Regions from separate parts of the Homo sapiens genome. Here region 2 is linked to region 1. Evidence: fine-mapped expression QTL. A gene starts in region 1. The other region holds a variant in brackets. All regions are shown on one strand. Distances are from middle to middle. Region 1 holds the start of DTWD2 (DTW motif tRNA-uridine aminocarboxypropyltransferase 2). Region 2 overlaps DTWD2 (DTW motif tRNA-uridine aminocarboxypropyltransferase 2).

The links. PIP is the estimated chance that this variant, and not a neighbour inherited with it, causes the effect. A credible set is the group of variants that fine-mapping cannot tell apart.
Region 2: its variant is the best candidate, but not a certain one, in a credible set for the expression of DTWD2 in CD4 T cells (BLUEPRINT, PIP 0.58).

Annotation. Positions count from the first base shown.
Region 1 is chr5:118,982,451-118,992,416 of GRCh38, forward strand. It overlaps DTWD2 (DTW motif tRNA-uridine aminocarboxypropyltransferase 2), which reads right to left and starts at 6,097. Exons shown (of 6, transcript NM_173666.4): 1 at 5,844-6,097. The coding sequence starts at 6,061. RefSeq lists a silencer at 5,681-6,010.
Region 2 is chr5:118,959,893-118,969,858 of GRCh38, forward strand. The region is part of intron 1 of DTWD2 (DTW motif tRNA-uridine aminocarboxypropyltransferase 2); the gene reads right to left. Among named protein-coding and RNA genes, the nearest start is that of MIR1244-2, 9.7 kb to the right of the region's middle. The variant C/T (reference allele first, on the strand shown) is at 4,524.

The DNA of each region.
Region 1 (9,966 bases):
TAGCCTGCACAATGATTTGTAAATCAGTTAGCTTTCCACATATATTATGAATAAACTATTTCAAAGAATAAACATATTTTCTATACTAACAGGAAAGAACAAACTAATATAATAATTTTCTCTTGAGAATATATCTTTGATATATACAAAAATTAAACTTCAGAATACCCAAATTTTTACCCTAAAAGTTATCAATAATCTAGCTGATTTTAAATTTACCAAAATAGTTTGTTTTCTTTTTTTTTTTTTTTTTTTTGAGACGGAGTTTCGCTCTGTCGCCGAGGCTGGAGTGCAGTGGAGCAATCTTGGCTCACTGCAACCTCCGCCTCCCAAGTTCAAGCGATTCTCCTGCCTCAGCCTCCCAAGTAGCTGGGATTACAGGCACTCACCACCACGCCCGGCTAATTTTAGTATTTTTAGTAGAGACAGGGTTTCACCATGCTGGTCAGGCTGGTCTCGATCTCCTCTGACCTTGTGATCCATCCGCCTCAGCCTCCCAAAGTGCTGGGACTACAGGCATGAGCCACTGTGCCTGGCCCAAAATAGTTTATTTTCTAAGTGCTGATACTGATTCAACAGTTTCAGTTATTCTACATTAACTACCCTAGGAATTACCATTTTTCACTTTTCCCACCAAATTTGAAGACTGATTTACCAGTTGCTCAGTCAGACAACCACAATGATGTACAGGAGACCCAGAATCAAAACATAAATGCCTATAGGGGGCCAGCAGTTAACCACAAATGAGTTAAGCAGGAACGACTGGGAGCTACAGTGACCTGGAGAGATCATGCCCAATATACGGGCACAGCCAATAATACTGAGCTTAACCAACTGCTGCTCAGGAAGGTGGTCTCTGAAGCTGTCAGATCTTCCCACTGTCACAAAAGCCAGAAATCTGGATTTTTATATGAAACATCTTGATTTTGAACTATTAACAACTAATTTAAAAGCTGATAAAACACAGTTCAAAGCAAAACATCTGTAGAGTGCCAGTTTGTGGCTCGTGCATTCTTCTTAAACACCTGCACTCTTCCCTTCTCTCTCTCCTTTCCCCATTTTCTCTCTCTCTCTCTCTCTTATGATGTTCCTCCCATCACTTTTTCCTCCAGAATATCCAAGCCTAAAGAATAAGGAAAAGGTAATGATATGTGGAATTAAAAAGCCAGAGAAAATACCAAAACTCAGCATCCTGTTACTAACTTAAAAAGTCTGAAAATCTTGCAGACTTAGTGATGCCATTTCAACTGGTGATAATACCTACTGTGCAAACAAAATCTTAACGCTTCTTCAGCAAGGAGCCTGGAGTGAGATCAAGTACTTGCATGAGCTAGGGAACCAAGTGGACTGGAGCTAGAGACCCAATTCTGCTACCTGCCTGTTACCTGTATTTCCTCATCATTTAAAAGCAAACAGTAGCTGGGCGCGGTGGCTCTCACCTGTAATCCCAGTACCTTGGGAGGCTGAAGCAGGCGGCTCACCTGAGGTCAGGAGTTCGAGACCAGCCTGACCAACAGGGCAGAAAACCTGCTTCTACTAACAATACAAAACCTAGGCTGGGCGCAGTGGCTCACGCCTGTAATCCCAGCACTTTGGGAGGCCAAGGCAGGCGGATCACCTGAGGTTGGAAGCTCGAGACCAGCCTGACCAACATGGAGAAGCCCCATCTCTACTAAAAATACAAAATTAGTGAGGCGTGGTGGTGATGCATGCCTGTAATCCCAGCTACTCAGGAGGCTGAGGCAGGAGGATCGCTTGAACCTGGGTGGCAGAGGTTGCGGTCAGCCAAGATCATGCCATTGCACTGCAGCCTGGGCAACAAGAGCAAAAACTCCATCTCAAAAAAAAAAAAATACAAAACTTAGCCAGGCGTGGTGGCAGGCACCTGTAGTCCCAGCTACTCTGGAGGCTGAAGCAGGAGAATGGTTTGAACCTGGGAGGCAGAGGTTGCAGTGAGCTGAGATTGCGCCACTGCAATCCAGCCTGGGTGACAGAGCAAGACTCCGTTTCAAAAAAAAAAAAAAAGCAGCAATCTAAAAGTTTGTTACAAGAACTAAATAAAATATTATCATATATAAAATATCTAGGCCTAGTATGTGCCTGGCAGATGGCTGGTGTTTAGTAAATGGGTGTTAAATACATAGATATGGTGTATTATAATTCTTACAGCTTGTTACTTTTGAAAAGAAAACACTGGAGAGACAAAAACTTCCATCTCAGGGTCTATCTGATTCAGTTTGTGTGCATGCTCTCCCTGCTGTTTCTTCCCTTAAACAGGTTTTAAAACATGCTGTTTTTAGACATTATTCCATTATTCCTATGACCAATGATTTGCAAGTGGTTTATGACTCATCCTCAAATGCATAGCAGTAACTACAGAAGATATAAAAGTATAATTAAGATGCCTAAAATATTTCTGGAATGAGGCCCTAATTCTTCCCAGTCAAGCTTGTACCCTTTTATCACCATCCAGTTGCTTTTTTTATAAAATAAAAAAGTATAAATTATACAGCAAAAGTCATGTACAAAAGTCAAACTTGTCACCACCTTTCAAATATAAAAATATTACAGTGGCTGGCTTGTTGGGTTATAGAGCATTAGGCCCAAACTCCCTGACATAGTTTATTTTGCCCTTCCTGGGGCAACCACCACTAATCTCTGCAGCCTCGTCTCTCACCACTCCCTCCCTTCTCCCAAACTCCCCAAATACACTATATATTCTATACACTAAACTCTCGTACATACTGTTTCCTCAACCAGAGCTCACTTTTTCCTCCCTCAAGCCCTCTCCTCAGCCAGTCTCTTCCCTAATTAATCCTAAATATTAGAATCCAGATTAAATATTTCGTTATGTCCTTCAGTCTCAGCTTACATGTCACTTCCAAGATTTCCCAGATCTTTTCCTCATCTCCACCATACAAACTTAGGGTTAGGAGCACCTTTTTATATGTTCCTATAACACCTTACATATACCCATCTAAGAAAGAAGCTGATAGTATAGAATTCAACAAGAAAAAGACCACATGCTTATGTGCATTTTTATATATATATATATATATATATATATACACACACATATATACATACATATACACACGTATATTACACTTTATTTCCTAACAAAATTAAAGACTCTAGTAAAATCTCAGAAGCACTACTTGGTGAACATGCATCCTTTTGCCTTCTGACTCTTACTCCACGACGGCCTAATTTCGAAGACTGCCAAAGGATATCAAACACATATAAAAAGTGTTTAAATCTTTCCACTCTGATGTCATATAATTTAAATAAGAATGTTTAAATTAGCAAGATGATTTTAACTTGAACAAAGTTATTTTACAAATACTTTTACTTTGAAAAGTTCAGAAAACACTTTTTGCTGTTTTCTTCAGAGCTTCAAAAATTTGATGCGGTTCATTACCTATAATTTGAAAAAACTGCCCTACATCATAGGATTTTTAATCTGAGGGCTCCCCATTTAAATAGATATGCCACTTTCCACTAGATCCTGATATTCAGGAGAACTGAAGTCATCTCTTTTTCATCTTTGTATTTCATAGCCTATCACACCGTCTGGAAGAAGGGTCTCCAAAAATATTTGTTGAACAACTGAATTTTACCAAGTAGTTCAACAAATCTTTTGTGCACCTACCATGTCCCATGACCCTCAGCCTTCTTATGTTATCTCAAATAATGCTAATGATACATACTCTGGGGAGATCAGCCAAGGTTTTGTCTTTATCTGAAAAAAAAAATTATATACGTTTGGGAATGGGGGATAGGAAAGGTATTCTAAGAGGTAAATGGAATACAGGCAGGTTTTGTAAACAAGACATACATAAAGGACAGAATACATTTATAGAATCTATATCTTGCAATAATAAATTACAAGTTTGGGATCTTTTAAAGAATATTCCATTCATATTTAAGATATGTTATATTTATAATGAGCAAGATTCTGCTGAAAAGTTAAACTGAGTTTGCACTTCCTGAACAAAGCTAATTTCTGGAACTCCCCTAGGCTGTGACATTTGTAGTAATGTGTTCAGAGAAATGAATACAGTTTAAGTAAATAGCCAAATAACTGTGACTCAATGATCAATCAAATCTAAGAATGCATTTTTAAAACTATTTTAACCATAAATGTAAAGAAGTTCACCCAGGGTACTAGTAGAACTCTAATAGCATAATGAAATAAAATATAAAAAGCCATCAATTCATTTATATTTTATTGACAACACCTAAATATTCTCCATAATTCTAGAATTATATTCTACCTAGTTAAAGCAAATAAAATGCATAGCAAGAGGGAGGAGAGCTTTTCACAGGTAGCAAATTTCACAAGAAATAAGCAAAGTGTAGAATTATAGTCTACCTAATTAAAGCAAATAAAATGCATAGCAAGAGGGAGGAGAGCTTTTCACAGGTAGCAAATTTCACCAGAAATAAGCAAAGTGCAGAAATGTTGGGGAAAATTGTAATCCTAAGGTATTAACTAAACGTAACTGAAAAAAAGATTAAATTCAGCAAGCCATTTTTTTAAAAAAGCATCATAAAATAAATCTCTGCTAAACAGATTTTTACCTATATATTTATAATTAACAATTCTGAACAGACTAAAAACTAAATAAAACTAGCACAGTAATTTAGCCTTTGATTTATATTTGAAACACTTTTCCTCCAGTATCCTATTGAGACCCCTCCAAACATTTTTAAATGCTTCCCCAACCCCCTCAGACGACTTGTTTAAATTAATTGTATTCACAAACCCCTATGTTCAAATTCACAGTCCCTTCTAATCACAAATTTTCCATCCTCCTCAGAGGTTTACTGAGCGTCAACTATACATAGTACATTTAGAAAATATAAAAACATTCTACATTCAAGATCCTTTCCTCTGAAGTCTTACAATCCAGCCCTAGGAAAAGGTCAAAATGTCCAAAGTGTGATACTCCAAGTATTCAAGCAGTAAAGATCTTCAACCATATTCAGTCCTTCTGTTCCCCTTCTTGGAATGCTTTTCCCCTGGCTGGATTCTTCTCATCTTTCAAATCTCAGAGATAGTTCATGACACCATTGAGCTATTTTCTACAGTAGCAACCCATTCCTTTCCTTCACTGCTTTTTTCCCAGTTTGTAATTACATATTTGATTGCTTGTTTGCTGGTTTATTATCCGTATCCAGTAAGAGAATACTCTACAAAAACATGAACTCCACTGCATTGTCAGTGATTACCAAAGCACTCAATAAACACCTGATAAATTAATGCACAGGTCTGGTGTTCCGAAGAAAGGTCTGAGCTAGACACACTGGGATATAGATGATAATTTACCATGAAAACTGATTTTATAAATTACCAGTGGGACGTATGTAGGGTTTGAAGAGAACCTAGAATGAACACCTGAAAAGGCCCTATATTTAGAGTTCTGGTAGGATAGGTAAAGGAGACTGTCTCTCTCCTCCAATCCACTTTATGCTTTTTAACTGTGATATAACTATGCCACTTAAATATGACTGTGTAACTATTTTACAAGTATTACTGTCATCACCCCTTACTTCCCCTATTGGACGCTTAAGTTTCTTGGAAACAGAACTGATGTCTGCTCATCCCATGATACGCTCAGCATATTGCAGGAAGTAAGGTTAGATAATCATGAACCTGGAAAAAGGGCTTCTTACTAGGTAGCTGTGCCTGGCATTTCCGAGATTTCCAACGTGCACCCGCCAACTCCGCCGCCCTAATCGCAGAGCTGCCCGAGCCGCCGACTCCCCGGCAGGGGGCGCCGCACCCTCCTCCGAAGGCCGCTGCCGGCTGCAGTCCCCGCCCCCAGCCCCGCGGTCACCTGCAGCGGGTGCACTCAGGCCTCCGCTCGGCCGGCTCCACCGGCAGCTCCCACAGCCCGTCCGCACTGTCGTCGTCCGCCTCTGCGCCCAGGGCAGCCGCCGCCGGCACTGCGCCGCCCTCCCGCCGCTCCTTGTCGTTCGGCGTCTGAGAGCTTGAGGCCCCAGAAGGCCGCGCAACGGGCTCCTGGAGTGTTCGTGCCTCTTTCTGCGACTCCATGGCGGACACTCCGGTCAGGCCGTGGCATTGAAGCCCGGCTGCCGCCGGGGGGCGCCACGCGCTGTAGAAACCGGCCCGCGCCGCGTAGCGCAATGCCCGCACGCCACGTACGGGGGGCGGGTCTCCGAAGCCCAGGCTGGAGGTCCCACCCTGCCGCTGGGAAGGAACGAGCCCATTGGTCCGTGCCCAGTGGGACCGTTCACCTAGAACTGGGTAGGCAAGTGTGGGCAGTGTTGGAGTGCTGGTGAGGTTAAGTAGCGTCATTGGGAGAGGTAAGGGAAACCTCCCCGAGAGGACCCCAGTACCAAGCCCGAATTTAACTCCTTTAAAAGTTAAAATAAAATGGAATTCTGCATTTTCCGCCTTGGGATGGCAGTTTAAGAATTTGCAGGATTTCCACGCGTGCATGCATCGCAGGTGCGGCAGCTGATGCACTTATTATTTAAAGGCCAACAAAGGAGAGGTTATATCCACTGGGAACTACTCACAGCTGGTCCGTTTCCTTATGTGAATTTCCTGCTCTTCTATGTCTTGTGCTAATAAGACATCAAGCATGCTATTTTACACTGGACACCAGATATTTGTTAAATTAGATTTTTAGATCGTCCCCGATCAGGAAGCAATAGGAGAGCTGGCCCGGGGTACCAATAGGTTTTATGTATGAGGAAACAAGCCCTAGAAAGGTAACGTTGCCCAGGTATTTAACAACTACTGGATACGGCGGTATATAGCACAGCAGCTGTTTTTTAAAAGCCAAAATGAAATCTATGTTAGAATGAAGGCAGAAATACTATTTACCCAAAATGGGTATCGAATTCCTTTTGTTTATTAATGCTTTGTGTTACTTCCAGCAATACACAACATTAAAACAGAATTAAGCTTGGTTTTGATCAATCATGTGAATTAAGCTTAGGAATCACAGTTGTCTTAACTCTATAGTTGTAATAGATTAAATGTGAGGCAAAGTAGACAACACAGTAATAGAGCAAATACTGTATTTCTTAAAATGTTTATTTCACATTAGATTTTTCAGTCATCTTAAAATCAAGTTTGTGAATAAAATACCGTGCTGTTTTCAACTATCCTACGTTCTTTCCCCCCGGAAACAGCACCTCTCTTTTCCTTTGGAGCGTCCTATGTGAGGGATAGAAAAAGGCTGAAACACCCACCTGGTGATGGACGTAGAGTGGGAGAAAGAACTAGCAATTATGCCATTTGGAATCGGAGGATAAACAAAATCCAGAAACTGTAGGAAAGGAGATGAATCAGAAAATTCATCTTGTCTGTAGATTTAGGTTGGGGAACCAATTCTTTAACTGCCAAAATTAAATTCTCATGTGACTTATCTTTAAACGAAAGGAAGCTGCTCATCTTTAATTTCAAGAGGTGAAATGTGCTCAAGTCCTCTAAGGTCCCTTGAGACTCCCAATTGTGTGGTGTGAGAAGACAGATGATAAGGAAAAAAAAAAAAACTTTTTATCTAAGGAATGCGAGCAGTCATGTCTCACTCTCCCTTGAGCTAAATAATTACCTCTTGAAGGCACTTGCTATGCAGGCCCTAGACTGACACCGAGTAGCCATAAAACGCCGTATACCCTATAGTTCAACAATATGTATAGCCAATCACTAACCAATGTTATTTCTGTAAATAAATGACACTTCCTGAGACATAGCTTTTGTAATGCCCCCCTCTGCTGATTCGTTCTCTTTTCTTTAAAAACTCCAGCCCATTTTGTTCTCCAGAGCACTCTCCACAGCAACCTGGAAGTACGACCTAGGCTACAGTCCTCAACGTTGGCCCAAATAAACTCTCTATATTAATTTTGCCTCTGCTCCTTCCTTTTAGGTTGATGTGAGCCTACTTACTTGGGGCTTCCTTTTAACACCCCATATCAGATTATTGGCTTTACCCTTCAAAGTATTCAAAATCCAAACATTTATCTCACCTACTACTTCTGCCCTGGTTCAAGCCCCCGTCATCTCTTGCATAGAATATTGCCAAAGACCTAAGTGGTCTCCTGCTCCATCTCCGCTCCTTATGAAGAAAATCCCCTACAAGTCCATTGTCTCAGAGGCTGACCAAAATCAAAGAAAGCTTCCATCCAGGCAAGACACAGAGTTGAGAAAGGAGAGCCATTTTCCTCTATAGGAAGCAAGAAATTCACCCAATATCCAGGTTTGTGAACAATGACCTTCAGACGCCTGAGGAAACATGCAGGTGAGGTTACCACCTTGGGGCAGACCCAGGTATCAGACCATCAGTGACTCAGCTTCTGGGAAGTGCCAAGACACCAGAAAGGGAAGTAAAATATCCTTTATGGGATACAGACAACTTACTAGTGTCAAGATAATGTATTGAGGTGTTAATGTATGTTTTGTTTATCTCCCAACTTCAGGTAGAAAACCAGACTTTTATGCTCCTTTGCCTCAGAGGAGTTTGGGTAGTAAAGACTGAGGACAATCTTAGGTCCACGCCTGGTGTTGTGGGAAAAGGAGATCCTGTTACTGGTAGAGGAAAGGGCCTCAGTAATGTAAGGGATTGAATATCCTGCCAGGCCTGCAGTATGAGGATTCAGCATTGTATAAGATTTGATTTAAATGAAATAAAAACATGGTATTTTTTGCTATATTCATTTTCTATCACTGTGGAACTAATAACCACAAATTTAGTGGCTTTTTCCTTTGTTTTTTTTTTTTTTTTTGAGATGGAGTCTCGCTCTGCCGCCCAGGCTGGAGAGTAGTGGCGTGATCTGGGCTCACTGCGACCTCCGCCTCCCGGGTTCAAGCAATTCTGCCTCAGCCTCCCGAGTAGCTGGGACTACAGGCTGCGTGCCACCATGTCAGGCCAGTTCTTTTTTTTTTTTTTTTTTTTTTTTTTTTGAGACGGAGTCTCGCTCTGTTGCCCAGGTCGGACTGCGGACTGCAGTGGCGCAATCTCGGCTCACTGCAAGCTCCGCTTCCCGGGTTCACGCCATTCTCCTGCCTCAGCCTCCCGAGTAGCTGGGACTACAGGCGCCCGCCACCGCGCCCGGCTAATTTTTTGTATTTTTAGTAGAGACGGGGTTTCACCTTGTTAGCCAGGATGGTCTCGATCTCCTGACCTCATGATCCACCCGCCTCGGCCTCCCAAAGTGCTGGGATTACAGGCGTGAGCCACCGCGCCCGGCCCAGTTCTGTATTTTTAGTAGAGACAGGGTTTTACTGTGTTGATCAGGCTGGTCTTGAACTCCGGACCTCAGGTGATCCACCCGCCTCGGCCTCCCAAAGTGCTGGGATTACAGGACTGAGCCACCGCGCCTGGCCACTTATTTTTCTTTTAAGTGAAAACCAAGTTTATTAGGCAAGCAAAAGAATAACAAATGGCTACTCCACAGGCAGAGCAGCAGCTTAGGCTACTTCATCAAGGATACTTTTTTTTTTTTTAATTATTATTATACTTTAAGTTCTAGGGTACATGTGCACGACATGCAGGTTTGTTACATATGTATACATGTGCCATGTTGGTGTGCTGCACCCATCAACTCGTCATTTACATTAGGTCTATCTCCTAATGCTATCCCTCCCCGCTCCCCTCACCCCACAACAGGCCCTGGTGTGTGATGTTCCCCTTCCTGTGTCCAAGTGTTCTCATTGTTCAATTCCCACCTGTGAGTGAGAACATGCAGTGTTTGGTTTTCTGTCCTTGCGATAGTTTGTTGAGAATGATGGTTTCCAGCTTCACCCATGTCCCTACAAAGGATATGAACTCATCCTTTTTTATGGCTGCATAGTATTCCATGGTGTATATGTGCCACATTTTCTTAATCCAGTCTATCATTGATGGGCATTTGGGTTGGTTCCAAGTCTTTGCTAATGTGAATAGTGCCGCAATAAACATATGTGTGCATGTGTCTTTATAGCAGCAT
Region 2 (9,966 bases), 23 kb before region 1:
TGCAGAAGACTGAAACTAGACCTCTTCCTTACACCATATATAAAAGTCAATCAAGATGGATTAAAAACTTCAATGTAAAACCTAAAACTATAAAAATCCTGAAAGATAAACTAGAAAACACCACTATAGACTAGGCACTGGCAAAGAATTTATGATGAAGATGCTAAAAGCAACTGCAACAAAAATTAAAATTGACAAATGGGACTTAATTAAAAAGTTTCTGCAAAGCAAAAGAAACTTATCAACAGAGTAAACAGACAACTCACAAAATGGGAGAAAATATTTGCAAACTATGCATCTGACAAAGGTCTAATATTCAGAATCTACAAGAAACTTAAATCTACAAGCAAAAAAAACCCATTAAAATGTGAGCAAAAGACATAAACATTTTTCAAAATGAGACATATATACGGCAAAGAAGCATATGAAAAAATGCTCAACATCACTAATCACCAGAGAAATGCAAATCAAAATCACAATGACATACCAGCTCACACCAGTAAGAATGGCTACTATTAAAATGTCAAAAAAACAAGAGATGCTGGCAAGACTGCAGATAAAAGGGAATGCTTATATACTGCTGGTGGGAATGTAAATTAGCTCAGACACTATGGAAAGCGGTTTAGCAATTTCTCAAAGAACTTAAAACAGAATTAACATTCCATCCAGCAATCCCATTATTGGGTATATACCCAAAGGAATATAAACTCTTCTACCATAAAGACCCATGCACATGTATGTTCAATGCAGCCCTATTCACCAAAGGAAAGACATGTAATTAACCTAAATGAGCATCAGTGGTAGACTGGATAAAGAAAATGTGGTACATATATACCATGGAATAGTATGCAGCCATAAAAAAAAACAAAATCATGTCCTTTAGAGCAACATGGAGCTGGAGGCCATTATCCTAAGTGAACTAACGCAAGAACAGAAAACCAAACACTGCATATTCTCACTTATCAGTGGGAGCTAAACACTGAGTACACATGGATGCCAAGAAGGAAACAATAGACATTGAGGCCTAATTGAGGGTGGAGGGTGGGAAGAGGGTGAGGATCAAAAAATTACCTAGTAGATACTATGCTACTTACCTGGGTGACAAAATAATATGTACATAAAACCCCCATGATACACAATTTATCTATAGATCCAACCTGCACATGTACCCCCAAAACTAAAAGTTAAAAAAAAAAGTTTTAGTGAGTGTTATAATTGAGAAAGCTTAAGAGAGGCCAGATGCCTAGAGAACAAACGTCTCATGTCTAGAGAGATGAATATATACAGCAGCTAGAAAAGCCCCTACTAAAACTGTGATGACAGTTATGGATCAACTAAGACTGAGAATCTTATCATAATCATCTCACGTTCAGTTAACCTATTACTTACTTCCTTTCTTTTTATAGAAATATAAACAAATATAAAATATAGCAAACAGCTTTCTTAACAGCAAATTAATTTAATCACTCTTTCCTCTGCAAACTATTATTTTATATTTCCATAGTTTGTCTTAAATATTACTTAGACATGTTTTCTCTCATACTTAATTCACTATATGTTCTAAAGGAAACAATTTCTTAATCATTTTTGTATTATCCCAGCTGTGCATTTCCTGGGTACTAGATATTGAATAAATAATGATTGGACAAATAAAGAATGTCCACATGATTTATTCAAACTGAGCCTGCCGGTCCTCATGTAGCAGAATCCTCTGCTCCTTATTCACTGGCTGCATGAACATCCATCCTTATAAGCAGGAATCAAAGATTAAAGTAAAGATATTCTGCATAGAATATTTTGCTTATTCTCTCATCTCCTTTTCTTATCTAAAAACTGTCTATATTTTAAAACACTGATTTTTGTATACTTGCTTTATTGGGGGGGGCATACTTCCTCATTTTACATCAATGTCCATTTTCTCAAAAAAGCACAAAGACAGTTAAAAATTTTCTTTGCTACAAAGTAAAGAAAATATATTGATTTAGGTTAGTATTACATTACTACATAAGAGCATATAATAGTGCTATGAATAAGCCATTGATTTTGAGAGTTAAAAATTTTCTTTGCTGCCAGGCGCAGTGGCTCATGCCGGTAATCCCAGCACTTTGGGAGGCTGAGGCGGGAGGATCATCTGAGGTCAGGAGTTCGAGACCAGTCTCAACATGGAGAAACCCCATCTCTACTAAAAATACAAAATTAGCTGGGCATGGTGGTGCATGCCTGTAATCCCAGCTACTCAGGAGGCTGAGGCAGGAGAATTGCTTGAACCTGGGAGGCAGAGATTGTGGTGAGCCGAGATCACGCCATTGCACTCCAGCCTGGGCAACAAGAGCAAAACTCTGTCTCAAAAAAAAAGAAAATTATTTGCTATAAATTAGAGAAAATACATTAAGATTTAGGTTAGTATTACATTACTATATAAGAGAATACAATAGTGCTACAAATAAGCCACTGATTTTGATGCCTTTCCCCTAAAAAAGTGGTTTTCATCAATGCAACACCTATATACAGCTAAGAATTGAGTACAACTGAAAGTACCAGAATGACAAAATTCCCATCACGAGGCAATTTATTTATGGTGACCTGCCGCATTAACACATGAAAAATTATTAATTTGCCGATAACTTCTGAATCCAAAAAAAAATCCTAAAAGAAGCTGGATATTAGCAAAACAGACTAATTTCATAAACAGTAATGATATTTCATGGAGAAGAAAAAGGAAGTGGGATTAGGGAGTAAAAATAAAAGAGGGAATGAAAAGGAGAAGGGAGAGGAAAAGAAGGGACAGGTAAAGACAAAGAATTTAACATTTATTGCACACTTTTATGTTTTAGGCACTATGCTAAATACTTTAATTCTCACAAAACCTGTCAGCAGGAGGTAGTATTTTTAGCCTAACTTAAAGATGATGAAACTAAGGCTTAGAGAGGTTAAGTAACTTTTTCAAGAGAAAACAGAGCTGGGGCTAGAGCTTGGTTCTGTCTGATTCCAAAATGCATGCCTTTAATCAACACATTTGACTGAGTCCACATAAGCAGTTAATGTTCAATGAAAAGTCTTAACACATAGTTCTATCCAGCTGTCCTAGAACCCAGAAGACCTAGCACTAGAATTAAAACATTTAGAGATAAATAAACAAACGTGAGGGTCTAAAGAGGATCCAGAAGCAAAAGATCAAAGCCAAGATATTCATAAAATTCCTCAGTATAAAATGGCTAAAAAGTAATTAAGGATATGTGGTTAAAGATACCGTAAGAAATACGAAGAGGCTGACCCACAGGAAGCTAACAATATAGTAGAGAAAAAAGACAAAGTGAGGAGTTAGAAGAAGAAACTATTCAAACTTGGGAGATAGCTAGAAGGATAAGAAATGGTTTCATGCAAGACATGGAACTTGAGCTGGACCTTGAAATAGAGTATGATTGCAGAAAGCACAGATGAGGGAGGAGCTTTTCACAGAGACAGAATAACAGAACAAAGGCATGGAGCCAAACATTAAAAAGCACCTGTTTTGGGGGAGCAGTTCAGTGTAGCTGGAGAAAGGGGTGTATGGAGGAGGAAGAGATGAGTGGACAGGCTGAGGACTGACCTGCAGGACTTGGATGTTACACAAAAGATTCTGAACTCCCTTCTTTACCTAAAATATAAGCATTGAAGTTCTCCAGGAAAGGAATAAAATGAGCAGACAGACATGTTAAAAATATAAAGAACTTCATTAAAAGGGAATTGAACAGATGACAAAATGGAGTTTAGAAAACTACTTCAATTAGCACAGGACTGAAAAAATTCATTGCCGAGTGATGGCACAGAGAGAAGCCAGGTACTAAAGAGTAGTTTAAATACCACCTCCCCTGTAAAGTTCCAAGCAGGGGTCCCTCCCACCTCTGCACTCCTAAATCACACTATTCATGTTATATTACAATTATTGGCTTACCTGTGTTTCTTCCCTTAAAGATCCTTATGGTAACAACCAACCTTCATTCATTTTAATACCCCCAGTACCTAACTTGGTGAAAGAAGATATAAGCATTTGCAGGCCAGGTGCAGTGCTTCACACCTGTAATCCCAGTACTTTGGGAGGCCGAGGCGTGTGGACCACTTGAGGTCAGGTGTTCAAGACCAGCCTGGCCAACATGGTAAAACCTCATCTCTATTAAAAATACAAAAATTAGCCAGGCGTGGTGGCTCACGCTTGTAATTCCAGCTACTTGGGAGGCTGAGGCAGGAGAATCACTTGAACTCAGAAGGTGGAGTTGCGGTGGTTGCAGTGAGCCGAGATTGCACCACTACACTCCAACCTGAGCAACAGAGCAAGACTCCATCTCAAAAAAAAAAAAAAAAAAATTTGCAGAATGAAACATCTCAGATGTGTTTACTCATTAATGAGATATGACTTCAGGATGAGATTGGTTCCAAATTATACTTCATATAAGGCACCAAGTTGTGGTCATTTGGTGGCTGAAAGAGATGCCAGGGGAAAATTCCTCTACTTTGCCCTCTCCCTCTCCCTCTCCTTCTCCCCA[C/T]GGTCTCCCTCTCCCTCTCCCTCTCCCCACAGTCTCTGTCTCCCTCTCTATCCACGGTCTCCCTCTGATGCCGAGCCGAAGCTGGACTGTACTGCCGCCATCTCTGCTCACTGCAACCTCCCTGCCTGATGCTCCTGCCTCAGCCTGCCGAATGCCTGCGATTGCAGGCGCGTGCCGCCACGCCTGACTGGTTTTCGTATTTTTTTGGTGGAGACGGGGTTTCGCTGTGTTGGCCGGGCTGGTCTCCAGCTCCTAACCACGAATGATCTGCCAGCCTCGGCCTCCCGAGGTGCCAGGACTGCAGATGGAGTCTCGTTCACTCAGTGCTCAATGTTGCCCAGGCTGGAGTGCAGTGGCGTGATCTCGGCTCGCTACAACCTCCACCTCCCAGCCGCCTGCCTTGGCCTCCCAAAGTGCCGAGATTGCAGCCTCTGCCCGGCCACCACCCCGTCTGGGAAGTGAGGAGCATCTCTGCCTGGCCGCCCATCGTCTGGGATGTGAGGAGCCCCTCTGCCCGGCTGCCCAGTCTGGGAAGTGAGGAGCGCCTCTTCCCGGCCGCCATCCCATCTACGAAGTGAGGAGCATCTCTGCCCGGCCGCCCATCGTCTGAGATGTGGGGAGCACCTCTGCCCCGCCGCCCCGTCTGGGATGTGAGGAGCACCACTGCCCGGCCGCAACCCCGTCTGGGAGGTGAGGAGCGTCTCTGCCCAGCTGCCCCGTCTGAGAAGTAAGGAGCCCCTCCGCCCGGCAGCTGCCCTGTCTGAGAAGTGAGGAGCCCCTCCGCCCAGCAGCCGCCCCATCTGGGAAGTGAGGAGCATCTCCGCCCGACAGCCGCCCCGTCCGGGAGGTGGGGGGCAGCCCCCGCCCGGCCAGCCTCCCCGTCCGGGAGGTGGGGGGCGTCTCCGCTCAGCCGCCACCCCGTCCGGGAGGTGAGGGGCGCCTCTGCCCGGCCGCCCCTTCTGGGAAGTGAGGAGCCCCTCTGCCCGGCCGCCACCCCGTCTGGGAGGTGTATCCAACAGCTCACTGAGAACGGGCCATGATGATGATGCGGTTTTGTCGAATACAAAAGGGGGAAATGTGGGGAAAAGATAGAGAAATCAGATTGTTGCTGTGTCTGTGTAGAAAGAAGTAGACATAGGAGACTCCATTTTGTTCTGTACTAAGAAAAATTCTTCTGCCTTGGGATGCTGTTGGGGTATGGTGTAAGATCTATGACCTTACCCCCAACCCGGTGCTCTCTGAAACATGTGCTGTGTCCACTCAGGGTTAAATGGATTAAGGGCGGTGCAAGATGTGCTTTGTTAAACAGATGCCTGAAGGCAGCATGCTCGTTAAGAGTCATCACCACTCCCTAATCTCAAGTGCCCAGGGATACAAACATTGCGGAAGGCCCCAGGGTCCTCTGCCTAGGAAAACCAGAAACCTTTGTTCACTTGTTTGTCTGCTGACCTTCCCTCCACTGTTGTCCTGTGACCCTGCCAAATCCCCCTCTGCGAGAAACACCCAAGAATGATCAATAAAAAAAATAAATAAAAATAAATAAATAAATAAAAGAAAAAGAAAAAAAAAAAGAGATGCCAGGAAGAAGTATCTCTTAATTCCTTGTTTTTCACTTGCCACTGGGCATTATGCACATACCACTATTTCTCTTGAGAAACTCATAAAGATATCAGCTACGGTTTGGGTGCAGTCATGCATTGCCTAGAAAAAAACCCTGCCCAGAAAAATACCTTAATACTATCAAAATCCCACAATTTCTCCTAACATCTGTATTAGTTTCCTAGATGTACAGTGGGATTTGGCCGTTTATCATTCTGGCAAATTTACAAAAGTAAACCTCAAAAAATATGATAAAATGTTCAAGTTTAAAAAAGCATTGAACAGTTATCTGGTATATGTGGGTGCGCAGTGGTTGTCATAAAGGGTTATGAGGAATTTCTGTATGTTTCATTTATTTCTGTAAAGTGTGACTTTTTCTTCTGAGTATACACCTCTTTTGTGTTCAGAAAAAATATATATTTTTAAGAAGCATTGAATATCTGTCACCTCAAAGTTACTCCAACAATCTGTGGTTTTTAGATCTTTGCAACAGAAAAGATGTTTAATATTTTCTTATGATCATACTCAGGCAAATTAGTTGATGATATGCTATAATGCCAGTCTTATATCTTTAGTACATTACATAAGGCAAAGTAAACTATAGAAGGAAAAGTTGATAGGAATGATACCTAAGTTAATTAAACTGATAAAAGTTATCACTATCAAAATCCATCTCCTAGTATGTTGCTTTCCCTAACAGTTCTCCATAATTACAAATTAAAAGTCAATCAGAGGCCAGGCACAGTGGCTCACACCTGTAATCCCAGCACTTTGAGAGGCTGAGGTGTGAGGATCACCTGAGGTCAGGAGTGCGAGAACAGCCTGACCAATGTGGTGAAACCCCGTCTCTATTAAAAATACAAAAATTAGCCAGGCACGGTGGCAGGTGCCTGTAAGTCCCAGCTACTTGGGAGGCTAAAGCAGGAGAATCTCTTGAACCTGGGAGGTAGAGGTTGCAGTGAGCCAAGATTACGCCACTGCACTCCAGCAGAGCAACAGAGGGGGACTCCATCTCAAAAAAAAAAAAAGACAATCAGTAACTCAAAAAAAAAAAAAGTCAAATAGTAACAGAAGTATGGGTTCGCAATTCCAAAACAACTGTATGTGTAGATTAGGGTTGAACAAATAATCAAACATGTTGCAGATAAAGAGAGTCAGATTTCTTACTGTCAAAGAAATAAACTACAATTAGAGAAGGGAGGAAGACTAGAATGAACTCTGTGGTATTGGATGAAACTCATGGTTTCTTTACATAAGTGTAGGTGTACATATAGATTTAGAAATAGATATAGGTATATGCATGGGTTAGTATATACACAGAAATCCTAGATCTGTCCACTAATAAGATAAACATCTCAGTAGCAATAAGCACACCAAGCACCCGGATCTTGGTTTTGAATATCATTTTACAATAAACCAGGGCTTCCTGAAAAAGTGGTTGATTCTAGGGCTGGGGCAGGGAAAATATAAGATAAGCCTGGATCATCTTACAGTGTCAGAAAGTAAGAAAGTTCTCAAAAAAGGATAAGCCTGTCAAAAGGTTCCAGGAACCAACCTGAAAGAGTTCTCAATGACCCAGGAGGGAACAATTTGAGCAATAAAAGAAATAAAAATAGTATTGGATTATAATCCAGTAATAAAATAAATATCCATAATTCCATACAGATATAAGCAAATAACTGAATAAATAAATAAATGGGGAGAAAAAGACACAGCTCTTCCATATAGAAACATTCCAATCAATAAATGTAGAAAGAATGGGGAAAATAGAGAATCACCATCAGAGCACCATAGCCATAATTGTTGCAGACAAGATGGATACTAAAATCAGTGGGCAAAAATTTGAGCAGAAACAGTATATTTGCAAAGTCTCAAAGTAAATTCCTCCCCAAGATATTTATTAACTACAAAGGGAACAGGAGTAACTGCATAGTAGAAAAACACAGCAGAGACTACATTAACCAAATGATCTATGTTAATTTCGCCAAGAATAATGCATATTGATATCATGTACCTCTGATATATTTGCTAAAAATATAGTATTTTTAGACTATTAATTTGTAGCTAGTCTTACCAAAAATGTATAACCTTGCTGTAATCATGAGAAATCATAAGTCAAACCCAACTTGAGAGACATTCTACAAAATAACTGACCAGTATTCTTCAAAAGTAACAAAATCGTGAAAAAAAAAAAAAGAAAAACCTAAGGAATCATCACAAACTAGAGAGGACTAACAAGACATGACAATTAATGCAATGTGGGATGCTGAGTTAGATACTGAACCAGAAAAAAATGAACTTGAGTGGAAAAACTGGTGAATTCTGAACATAGTTAACAGTACTGTACCAGAAGCAGCTGCAGTCAGTGGCTATCACAGAGAAGAATGAAAACGGCAAATGAAATTCTGAACCTTCAACTGAGGTATCCAGGTTCTCACACTGGGACTCACTAGGTGGATGGCTAAACCCACAGAGAGTGAGGAAAAGCAGGGTGGGGAGACGGCCCCTTCTGAAGCCAGGGAAGGCCCTACCCCAGCCAAGGGAGGCAGTGAGTGTGCGACCCCACCCAGGAAACCACGTTTTTCCCATAGATCTTTGCAACCTGCAGATCAGGAGATCCCCCCCTGAGCCCACACCACCAGGACCTTGGGTCCAAAGCATAGCGCTATGCGGAGTCTCAACAGAGTGGCTCTGGTATGCACAGAGACCCAGGAATTTTGCATACTCTGGCCCTGGGAATTCCAGCAAGGCGGGAAATCCATCCATGCCTTCCCCTAGGAAGGGGGCTGAATCCAGGGGGCCAAGCAGCATCGTTCTGCAGGCCCCACTCCCATGGCACCTCACATGTTAACACCCACTGGCTTGGAATTCCAGCTGGCCAGTGGCAGGAAGCTGGAGACTGCCTGAAATGAACCAAGTTCCTGAGGGGCTTGGGAGTGGGGGCAGCTGCCATCTCTGTGGTTCCAGCCTGCCGGCTCCTCTGGGGAGTCCAGGAGGTCTGGAACGGGAAGAGTTTTCCACAACACAGCAGACTGTGGTCAGACTGCTCCTCTAAGTGGGACCCTGCTTCATCCCTCCTCACTAGGTGGGGCTTCCCTGCAGGAATTTCAGCTACACTAGCCTGAGTTATATGAACAGATCTCTGATCACTCCCTGGGACTGAGCCACCAAGAGGGGAGGGGCGGGGGGGAAGCGGTGACTGTATTTGCAGTTCAGCCAACTTAGCCTTTCCAGCCTGCTGGCTCTGGAGAGTCCAGGCAGTCTGTACAAGGAGGATTCCCCTCAGCTCAGCACACCCACTCAGCCAAAGGGCAGCCAGACTGCTTCTTTAAGCAGGTCCCTGATCCTGTTCCCCCTGACTGGGTGAGAACTCCCAGTAGGGGCTCCAGACACCTTCTACAGGAGCATTCAGGCCAACATCTGTTCAGTGTGCCCCTGGGACAAAGCTCCGAGAAGAAAGAGGAGGCTGTCACCTTTGCTGTTTTGCAGCCTTCACCGGTAATATCTCCAGGTGTGGGAGGACCAAGGAGATTAGGGTCTGGAGTGGAACCCCAACAACCACAGCAGCCCTATGGAAGAGTGACCTGTTAAAAGAAAAACAAACGAACGGAAAACAATAACAACAACAATAACATCAACAAAGAAGATCCCACAAAAACACCATTCAAAGGTCAGCAACCTCAAAGATAGAAGGTAGATAAGCCCACAAAGATGAGGAAGAATCAATGCAAAAACGCTGAAAACTCAAAAATCCAGAGTGACTCCAGATGACTGCAACACCTCTCCAGCATGGGTACAGAACTAGGCTGAAGCTGAGATGACTGAAATGACAGAAGGAGGCTTC